Linked DNA regions of Homo sapiens. The protein of the gene in region 2 purifies or fractionates together with the protein of the main gene of each other region. This does not show direct contact. Each region holds a gene or a part of one and is shown on either strand. Other genes may lie near its edges.

Region 1 (3,652 bases), on a different chromosome or scaffold from region 2:
ATTCAACATTAATTCCAATATCCTTTTCCAGCATTTGTTTTGGTACTACAGAGTTTAGAAAGCCAAAAGCCCCTTCTCAGACTTCCTTGAGGCCAAGGTTTTAAATATTACCTAGGTTTCACCAAAAAACCCGGCCCATGTGAGGCCTCAGATGCAGAAATGAACAATGTAGGGGTGGTGATAGCACTTAGGAGCTCAAACAGCTGGGACTGAGGTCCCTGATGTCATAGACCCTGAGTGGCAGGTGATAACTTCAGTGAGGTTTTCTAGTTTAGTATTGTGGCATAGTTGGGTATTTCTCTTCACTATATAGCAGTTAAGCTTTGCATCCCTACTTTCCTAGAAAGTCTATAAATTGCCTGATACTGTATAATTAATCACTTTCTGCTTTAAATTAGTTACAGTAGATTCTGTTTTCTGCAATAAGAAGCCTAGTAATAGGTACGGCAGGATGGTGAATAAAGAGGTATATATATATAGATTTTTTTAAAAAGGTTCCAGCATGAAACCTGTAGTATATTTATTACAGATGGGCTCTCTAATCTTTTTAGATAGATTCTCTAATCTTTTTAGATAGATTCATACATACTTCTGAAATAGTTCTGGAAGGACTTGTTAGCTGAGGTACTTTTGTTCATTGTTTTTAGCTTAAAAATTAGGGCTCTGCCAAATTTCTTGTTTTAAAATAAACTTTTTTTGTTAGAGGGGAGACACCGATTCTTGGAAAGCTTTTCTTTATCTACTAATTGTGGGTGTTTTATGTCACCTTTCCTCAAATACATATGCTTCCCTAATGTATCTTTATCATCACTTAAGCAGTGGCCGTTTACCTTTTGGGTCACAGACCCAAATCTGCTACCCAAATCTGATAAAAGTTTATTGATACCTTACCTCCAAATACACATACAAATATATTCCTGTAGTTCCATATACAATATGAGTTAGACACCGTTCTCTTTCCTTATACCCTTTAAGTATATTCAGTAAATGAAGGTCAAAAATTCCTACTCTAGAATGACAGAAGTGAGGTCCAAAACCAGCATTAGTTATCTCTTAGAATGAAGGAGAAAATGTGGTTCAAAATCAGACATTTTTCAGAGAAATAGCTTGCTATCCTCCTCAATCAGAAAAATTTTTTTCCAAATCCCAAGAACCTGTGAATTAATAAATTATTTCCCCAAATACATTTTTTCCCCAAGAAATTTAATTAATTGTTTTTGAAATCAGAAAATTAAACAAATCGTCTCCCCCCACTTCCTCTGCCCTCCTATATATACTCACCATGTTTTGGGCTGAGAATGGGAAAGGGATCTCCTAGTTTCCAGAAGAAATACATAAAGGTCAGCCATAAGAGACAGGAAAAAAGCAGTCGTTGTTTATGCACTGAGACAGAGGAGACAAAACTGTTAGGAAAAACAGATATAGGTTAAAGAGCTTGCTCTATTTAAAAATATAAGATAATGCTAACTAATATTTGGCTGCTAATTCACTTGGCAAATGACTGATGAACAGCATAATTTTTAGTGAAAGCATCCTTACCATCGTAAGAGAAATTTAGCTGAATTTAAGGTGTGGGATGAACTAAAGGAGACATTATTAATAGGTAGAAAAATAAAGCTGTGGCAGAACAAATAACCTAATCATTCATTCAATATTTATTTTGTGCCAATTCATTCAATATTTATTTTATATTTATTTTTAAGATGTTGTGTGTGAGGTATCCTCAAATAGCGGTAGATACTGAAAGTTAATGTAGAAATGAAGCTATCCACAATTTAAGTCCCCTCAAATACTCATCTCAATCTATATGCTGACTGAGAGGGTAAAATACTTACGTAGTCGGATATTGCTCACAATAAAATAGCCAATGTAAAAAGGCACCATGAAAACCAGGATCAGCAGAATTACACACAGGTTCATTTTCCAGTGAAAATAACGGGAGCTGAAATAAATGTCAAAGACTGTCACTGGGAGGAAGAGAGGGCAGCAACTTTCTTTCTCTTTAGTCTTCCAAAGGGTCCTTTTGCTCTTTGGACTCAATATTGAATATATCCTATCTAATCAGCCTACTAGGCTCTTAAAATCTACTCATTTGTAGAGATTAAAAAATACAAATTTTTGAAAGGTATATATGACCATCTTAACATCTTAAGAATTTCATATATTAAAATAAGAATGTTTATGTTTTTGATATATTCATAGGCAACATATACCATTAACATGTATCAACATATGCCATTGCTGGTAGAATGACTATTGTTTTACCCACCCCTAGGAATCTCATTCCAATGTAAGAATTAAAGGAAAATAAATGTTAACAGTAATATATGTTATACTCAAAAATATTTCTTTTGTACTCTTGATATAAACACCTGATTTGCATGAATTACTTTTATTAGTTTATAAGATGTACTTCATTTATTAAAACTTTTTGTTAGCACTTTTTATAACAGTTTTAATGAGATATAATTTACCCATTTAAAGTGTACAATTCAATGGTTTTTGTATACTCAAGAGTTGTGCAACCATCACCTAAATCAATTTTAGAACATTTTCATTACGCCATAAAGAAACCCTGTACCCATTAGCAGTCACTCCCTGTTTCTCCCCAATCTCCTCAGCTCTAGGAAACCACCAATATACTTTCTGTTTCTAGGAAACCACCAATATGTAATCTTTTGTGACTGGCTTCTTTTACTTACCATAATGTTTGCAAGGTTCATCCATGTTGTAGTATCTATCAATAATTCCTTTTATGGTTGAACAATATTCATCCCATTATATGGATATATTATATTTTGTTTCTGCATTCATTAATTGAGGACATTTGGGTTGTTTTTAGCTATTATAAATAGAGACGCTAGGAATGTGTGTGTATACATTCTGGTGTGGACGTATGTTTTCATTTCTCTTTAGGTAGAAATGGAGTGGAATTGTTGGGTCATATGATAAATCTATATTTAATCTTTTAGGCACTCCCACTGTTTCCCAATGTGGCTGCATCATTTTACATTTTCCTCAGGAGTGTATGAGAGTTCCAGTTTCTCCTCAGCCTCGCCAACACTTGTTATTTTCTGTTTTTTTTTTGGTTATAGCCATTTTAGTTGGTGTGAAGTGGTATCTCATTGTGGTTTTGATTTGCATTTCCTTGATGGCTAATGGTATTGGGCATCTATTCATATGTGCTTACTGGCCATTTGTATATCATCTCTGGAGAAATGCCTATTCAGATCCTTTATTCATTTTTTAATTGTATTATATGATTAAACTATAAGAATTCTTTATATATTCTAGATACGAGTCCCAGTCCATTATCAGATAGGTAATTTATAAAAATTTTCTCTTGTTTTTGGAATGTTGGTTCACTTTCTTGATGGTGTCCTTTGTATTTACTGATTTTAAACTTACTTAAGCCTTGTTTCAAAAAAGGCCTAAGTGGTTAAATGGCTTACAAAGATAAATAAAATACAGGATGATGAAATGAACTATAAGGAAATATGAACAACAATGGTAACAGGTAAAATATTGGGCCAAGCCTGATGGCTATTATAAAACAGAATTCTAGAAAGTTGCTATGGGTAGGTCATAAATTTAGCTTTAAGTTTTCTAATGGTCAATGTGAAATAAAAAATTTGATCAGTTAGATAAAATC
Region 2 (3,652 bases):
GTGACCCTCTGGTGGCCAAAGCGTCCAGGGGGACTGCCCGCCAGAACCAGGATGGGAAGGTGGCCAGGACCTGCTCAGATGGGCACAGGCTGGCTGCCTTCGGGATCCTCCGGGGTTCCAGTGCCAACTCTGAGTGAACTGGGACAGCAGGGGGACCCTTCAACAGCCCGCACTGGCGCTGACCACCCACCGCTGTTCCATCCCCCACTGCTTCGGCCCCAGCATTTCCAGCCCTGCTTTCCAGGACATGCACGGTGACCACTTGAGCTCTTTATTGTTGGAGGACATTTCCATGCACATGGGACGTGCCGACATACGTGGGGACACTGGCACGCAGTTCACGGCACAGCCCCCACTCCCGCCCTGGACTCCTCTGCTCACCTCTGCACCAGGGACAAGGCAGGTGCAGGGAGAGGAGGCCCAATCTCGCAGACAGCCACACTGGGGGTGGGGGGTAGGTGGGGGCTGCTGTTGGCTCCCCCGCCCCCAGCCTCAGCTGGGCGTCCAGTTCTGGGTTGTCCAGCGACGCCCTCTGGGTGCCAGAGTCCAGCCCTAGCTGGGGTCCCAGCAGGGTTCAGAAGGGGCTCTCAGCCAATCTAGGGAGGCCACCAGCCAAGGGGGTCTCCGCAGATGAATCCTGGCTGCCACCACCCCTCCCAAACTGCAGCTCCTTGCTGGGAGGGCCGTGGCCGGGCGAAGATGAGGCCCTGTGGTTGCTGGTGTTCCGCTCCTCCCATAGCACTTTGCCCAGGCGCCAGCGGTGCCAACGCCGCCGCAGCTCCGACTGCACCTGGGGAGGGGGACGGGGCAGGCCAGTCCTAGGGCCTGCCTGTCCTCTCCACCCCACCGGGACCTGCTGTGGGCCTCATCGGAGATGCCCAGTCTCCGCTCTGAGGGGTGCAGAGCGACACAAGCTCCCTGCTGGGCACAGCTATGCCACCCAGCATCGCCACGGAAAGCAGTCTGCAGACACCTGGGGACCCCCACGGTGGACACCGTAGCGATGGGGCTGAGGCCAACCTGTCCTGGGGGCCTGACACCCAGCGCCATGGCAACTGCACCCAATAAGAGCAGGGGGAGGGAAAGGCTTGGGCCCCACGTGTTCCAACCCCCGGGCAGGGGTGGGGCTGGCATCCCTGTGCCTCTCTCTGCCCCTGACCCCGACGGCCAGTGCTGATGGTCTCAGATGCCCCCACTCCCACCTACCTCCTTGTTGAGGAAGCAGTAGAGGACAGCCACCAGCAGGCCCTGGAGAGACAGGGTGGTCAGGGGTGGCACACTGCGCCCCGGGCGGGGGAGCCGGCGGGCGGGCGGGCACCTGGAAGGAGCTGAGGAAGAGGTCGAAGAAGAGCTTGGCGGAGCGCAGGGTGCCCTGGGCGTGCTCGTCCGTCACGAAGGCGAAGACCACTTCGTGGACGCCCAGCAGAGGGATGAGGGTCAGCGTGGACTTGGCCAGCCTGCAGAGGCAGCGCCTGAGTCACCCACCGCCCCCACCCTCGGCCCGCACCATCCACGTGGAGCTTGGAGTCCCCACCCCCAGCTGCCCTCTGGCCCTGAGGGTCTCCAGGTCTCGAGACGCCAGCTGCCGCGGCACCCACCGGAACTTGTAGTCTGTGTGGTGCATCTGCCGTGCCCGCAGCTTGGCCACGAGCAGCTGAACGATGCGGACGAAGATGAAGAAGTTGATCTGTGTGAGAAGGGTGCGAGTCAGGGGCATCCCGAGCCCCAGGGAACAGCTCTGTGCCCTTGGAAGGCCCCACCTGACCCTCCTGCAGGTGGGCCTGGCAGCAAGATAGGCCCTGGGCCACATAGCCCTGGGGCTGGTGGGCACACAGCCAGGGAGGAACAGCCTGGCTCAGTGTCCAGGGTGCTGGCCAGTGTCCTGGTGTCCTGTCTGGGTGCCGGCTCCCTCCCAGCGCTCTCAGACAGGATGCTGCTGTCTCCTGGGGCAGCCTCAGGACGCCAAGGGAGGAGGGGCCTGGGGTGCGCTCCTGGCTCTTCATTTCCTCACCAGGATGGCCAGGAAGACGGGGAACCGCAGGATCCACCAGAAGCCCATGTTGTCATTGCTGGTCCAGCACCTGCGAGGCCAGGCCACTCACATACTGGGGCACAGCCCCCAGCCCCTCCGCCCCTCAGCACCCCCGTCCCGATTTTGCCAGGATCTAATTCGGGTCTCAGAAAAGGAAGGGAGAAGGTCACAAATGACCCCCTCCCCAGGCACCAGGCTCATCCCCGGCCCCTCCCTGCCTCAGGCCAGAGCGCCGCACCCCAGCCCCCCGGTCCCTCCCCAGGCTGTCCAGCCGCTCATACTCACTGGACGTTCTCGAACAGACACTTGACCACTGCCCAGGGGACGACGAACAGCATGGGGGCACCTGTGGGGGGCAGCAGCTGTGGTCCCAAAGGCTTGGTCAGCCTGCCTTAACCCCCTCTCATGCCAGCCCACTCACCCCAGCCGATGCCCAGGTAGAGGCTGAAGAAGCTCCTCTCGGGGAGGGTGGCCAGGCCCAGCAGGTTGTGCAGGTACAGGCCCTCCACCAGCAGCCAGCAGTAGTTGGCCACGATGCCATATTGCATGAACACCGCGGCCACACGGCAGCCAGCCACCGCCTGGTACAGGTGCAGTGTGAGCGCGGCTACGTGGCCACCTGCCTGGCTGCCCACCCACCCACCTGCCTGGGGCCGCCGAGGGGGGCTCACTCCATCACTGAGCCAGGTGCTGACACTGAGGTCGTCGCCAATTTTCTGGCTGTAGCGGGTCCTGAGCAGCCCATCAATGACCAGCACGGAGCTGGCTTTCAGCACGAAGGACGCAAACAGATTCGCGTGGATGGCATTGCGGGTGCAGTGCAGCTTGCTGTGGGCACAGCCAGTCAGCGCCCGTCCTCCTCCCTGTCCTCTGCGGCCGCCCCGGGCGCTGGCGGAATCCTACCTGAGGCCCCCCAGGATGGCCAAGGCGAGGAGCAGGGCCCCCAGGGACAGGCTGTAGCCCACTGTGTACATCACCTGGAAGCTGCTGTACATCTTGGCCACCTCCTTCTGCGAGTTACAGTGGCCTGTGAGGGCCAGGCAGGGGCCCCCATGCCCGTTCCCATCCAGCCCCACCGCGCCTGCCTGCCGCCCACTGACCTGGACCTCAATCTCCTCGCCATCCATCTGGCACTGGGAGGCATCACGCCAAGGCTGCCCCCGGGGTCCACGCACCCACTGACCGTCGGGCCCGCATCTCTTGAACACGAAGCGGTGTTGCACTGGGGGTGTGGGGGGAGGCTGGGGTCAGCCCCACCCTGGGCCCGCCCCCCCCACAGTTCCTCCCCTCTATGGGTACCTTTGTGGTGCCAAGGCAGGTACCAGGGGCAGGAGATGTTGGCCGTGGTATTGGCGGGGGTGTCCGGCCAGCAGGAATACTTGTCGAAGGTTCTGTTGCACACCAGCTCTGCAGGGTAGGGTAGGGCAGGGCAGAGCAGGGCAGGGCAGGGTGGGAGAAGGGGCTCCCTCAGCAGGCCTCTCTCCTCTCTCTGGAAGCCTGAGCTCGGCCGTCACCTCGCCCAGGACATGGCCTGGGCTGCTCCCTCCCCCACTTGACCTCCACCTCCCCCATCTGACCTCCACCTTCCTCACCTGACCATCCACCTCCCCTGGACCAGCC
Region 3 (3,652 bases), on a different chromosome or scaffold from region 2:
TTGCACATGTGAGCTATTGCGCCTGGCTAATTTCTTATTTTTTGTGGAGACAGGGTCTCCTTATGTTGCCCAGGCTGGCCTCCAACTCCTGGGCTCAAGCAATCCTCCTGCCTTAGCCTCCCAAAGTGCTGAGATTACAGGCGTGAGCCACAGCGCCTGGCCTCTTTGTAAAATTTCTTCACATCTCTAAAGCCTGTTTCCTCATAGGTGGGGTTAGATGAAGTACATTAATGTCCAATACATAGGCATGTAATAACTGATACTTTGCCCCTCAATCTTCTATGGCGTAAGAAGCCATAGAAGATTTTCCTGAATCTGCAGATTCAGGAAAAATAAGTGGTGGAAAGCACTCCTTCCTGATACTAAGTAAGTGTGAAATTATTCCCTTCTTACCCCAAGGTATGCTCTAGGATTCTCATTCTCCTTCATTAAACCTCAAGAGGTTGAGAGAGACAGAGACAGAGACAAACAGACTGAGACTAAGACCTTTAAGACTTTTAGTACAAACTCAGAGTCAAAAGAGGCAGGAGGACTAAGGCAGGGTCTTGGGCAGGTTCTTGAGAGAAGAACCTTCCTGCCCTGGCAAGGATGAATAATAAATGAAAGTCCCAAAAAGTGATGAACAAAGAGGGACTCAGTGAATCCCTCATGCTATGGATCTACTTGAACTACTGTCCAAACAAACACATTTCTGTTTATGGGGAAGCTGAATAGTTTCTTTAACCTCTGAACCCATAGCTGCTACATGGACACACTAAATAGAAAATAAATAAGTAAGTATATTATTTAGATGCTAAGTATACTTGGTTGACAAGTAGAGCAGGATATCAGAGGTAATCTACCCTACTCACAAAATACAAAATGTGACAAAGAGAAAATTGGGAATCCAGCCTTTGTACACATAGAGGTCTTGGTCTACACAGTCACTTTTCCCAAGTATAGCGTTGTTTGCTTACCACAAAAAAGATGTCCACAGTTGGTCTCCACCGGGAAGGAGGCTTGGTGCAGGCAGATGGGACAGTACATGTCAGTGTAGAACTGCTGTCGAGTGGCAGCAGGTGCATCCTAATAAGAACACAGGTGCACACATTGGAACACAACACATGTGGCCCTCAACAGTATCTCATGTTAAATTATATTTGAGAACAGAGTCAGCAGTGTGTAACCCTCATCAAACTGTAAACGTGCAATAGTTTAAGGTTATAATTTTAAGAATGTTATGAGGCTATATTGTTTTTATTTAAGCTGCATGGTTTCCACTTTCCTTCCTAAACACAATTTAAAGACAAAAACTTAGATTAACTCAAGAGTTCATCTTTTACTCTACTGGAATAAGTAAATTATTCTGAGTAACACAAGGCTGAGCTAGTGCATAAGCTAACAATAATAAATGTCGAGGTCAGGTGCAGTGACTCACGCCTGTAATCCCAGCACTTTGGGAGGCCGAGGCAAGTGGATCACTTGAGCCTAGGAGTTCCAGACGAGCCTGGGCAACATGGCAAAACCCCATCTCTACAAAAAATAGAAAAATTAGCCAGGAGTGGTGGTGGCATGCGCCTGTAGTCCCAGCTACTTGGGAGACTGAGGTGGGAGGTCACCTGAGCCTGGGAGGTTGAAGCTGGAGTGAGCCGTGACTGCACCACTGCACTCCAGCCTAGGTGACAGAGCGAGACCCTGTCTCAAAAAGAAAAAAATATCAAATGTCAAACTGTTTTCTAAGTCTTCACTTTTTTCATTTTCAACATCTTTTTCATTTTAAAAGTGTTGCACATATGCAAGAAACATCTAGATATCAAAGACCTCACTAGGATGGATCATGAGGGCAAGGGATTTATCTGTAGGACTCATTGTACCTCAGGACCTAGAAAAGTGTCTACATGGCCGGGCACGGTGGCTCACACCTGTAACCCCAGCACTTTGGGTGGCTGAGGTGGGTGGATCACTTGAGGTCAGGAGTTCGAGACCAGCCTGGTCAACATGGTGAAACCCTGTCTCTACCACAAAATACAAAAATTAGCTGGGCATGGTGGCGCACACCTGTAGTCCCAGCTACTCGGGAGGGTGAGGTGGGAGAATCACTTGAACTCAAGAGGTAAAGACTGCAATGAGCCGAGATCACACCGCTATACTCCTGCCTGGGCAACAGAGACCCTGTCTCAAAAAAAAAAAGTGTCTACATAACATATATTTTATGTTATTGTATTGTAAAACTTATTTATCAAAACTTGTTTTAATGGAACCCAGCACAGATAAAGTTGCTAGCATGAAAAATATCTAATTACAGAAAAAAGTATTAAGTTTACTAAATAGGAACTGTTCTTAAGTGAATCAGATTTTTGCCACTCAATATTCATAAACAAATTTAATAAATTTAAATAATAATAAATATAACTAAAATTTCATACTTCCAAAACAGTCCTAAATCACCAGAATATTCTGTGATCCAAGGCTACACCTTGATGTTATAGTCACTTATGTCAGTTCTAATGCTACAAAAAGTGTACAGCACTTTATGTTCCCTTCTCTACTTTTTTTTTTTTTTGAGACAGAGTCTCGCTCTGTCACCCAGGCTGGAGTGCAGTGGCACAATCTCAGCTCACTGAAACCTCTGCCTCCTGGGTTCAAGTGATTCTCCTGCTTCAGCCTCTGGAGTAGCTGGGATTACAAGCACCTGGCTAAAGTTGTGTTTTTAGTAGAGATGGGGTTTCGCCATGTTGCCCAGGGTGGTCTTGAGCTCCTGACCTCAGGTGATCTGCCCGCCTCAGCCTCCCAAAGTGCTGGGATTACAGGCGTGAGCCACTGCACCCAGCCTTCTCCTTATTAATTTTTAAAGAAATTGACAAAAAACAATTAACGGTGCTGTCCAACAGAACTTTCTGCAATAATTGAAATCTTTATCAGTGCTATCCAATACAGTAGCCAGGAGCCACATGTGGCCATTGTGTACTTGAAATGTGGCCAGTGTGACTAAAAGACTTAATTTCAGATTGTGTTTAATTTTAACTCACTTGAATAGCCACAGGTGGCTGGTAGCTGCCATACTGGACAGCACAGAACAGACTACATCGCCAGCCTTATTTTCACTCTGAGAGCTGTGTGCTGGGCCTCAGGAAGAGGTGAGGCAGTTGAGTGGACACTGCTGCAAGGAGACCTGGAAGATTCTCCTCAATCTGGGGCCCCTCCATAGCTGAACCCAGTCATGAAATTGCTAGTGTGAGTGTTAGCAAATCTTAGCAGTCTCATATGTTAATGAGAATAATAGTAGTTGCCTTACTTATGTCTAAAGATTAAATACAATTGTTGTTTGGGAAATCACTTTGTAAATTATAAAACACTATCTCAACATGAATTATGGGTAACAATTGTTATGGAACACAGTACTACTAATAGGCTTAAACTATTCTGTCTTTTTTAGACGGAGTCTCACTCTCTGTCACCAGGCTGGAGTGCAGTGGCGCAATCTCAGCTCACTACAACCTCCGCCTCCCGGGTTCAAGTGATTCTCCTGCCTCAGCCTCCCAAGTAGCTGGGACAACAGGTGTGCGCCACCATGCCCGGCCAATTTTTGTATTTTTAGTAGAGATGGGGTTTTACCATATTGGCCAGGATGGTCTTGATCTCTTGACCTCGTGATCTGCTTGCCTTGGCCTCT

The links.
Region 1: the proteins of GCGR (region 2) and GPR89A purify together in Homo sapiens (affinity purification with mass spectrometry, with the first as the bait; one large-scale study listed by BioGRID). This does not show direct contact.
Region 3: the proteins of GCGR (region 2) and RNF170 purify together in Homo sapiens (affinity purification with mass spectrometry; one large-scale study listed by BioGRID and IntAct). This does not show direct contact.

What each region holds. Positions count from the first base shown.
Region 1 is NC_000001.11:145,621,344-145,624,995, reverse strand, and holds part of GPR89A (Golgi pH regulator A), read right to left. Parts: intron 1,943-3,652; coding exon 1,836-1,942; intron 1,404-1,835; exon of another isoform or gene 1,384-1,403; coding exon 1,282-1,383; intron 1-1,281. UniProt on the Homo sapiens protein: Voltage-gated channel that enables the transfer of anions such as iodide, chloride, bromide and fluoride which may function in counter-ion conductance and participates in Golgi acidification.
Region 2 is NC_000017.11:81,810,612-81,814,263, reverse strand, and holds the end of GCGR (glucagon receptor precursor), read right to left. Parts: intron 3,440-3,652; coding exon 3,332-3,439; intron 3,255-3,331; coding exon 3,133-3,254; intron 3,043-3,132; coding exon 2,936-3,042; intron 2,861-2,935; coding exon 2,704-2,860; intron 2,614-2,703; coding exon 2,454-2,613; intron 2,379-2,453; coding exon 2,318-2,378; intron 2,082-2,317; coding exon 2,012-2,081; intron 1,688-2,011; coding exon 1,599-1,687; intron 1,458-1,598; coding exon 1,319-1,457; intron 1,249-1,318; coding exon 1,207-1,248; intron 791-1,206; coding exon 575-790; 3' UTR 256-574; downstream 1-255.
Region 3 is NC_000008.11:42,869,048-42,872,699, forward strand, and holds part of RNF170 (E3 ubiquitin-protein ligase RNF170), read right to left. Parts: intron 1,066-3,652; coding exon 957-1,065; intron 1-956. UniProt on the Homo sapiens protein: E3 ubiquitin-protein ligase that plays an essential role in stimulus-induced inositol 1,4,5-trisphosphate receptor type 1 (ITPR1) ubiquitination and degradation via the endoplasmic reticulum-associated degradation (ERAD) pathway.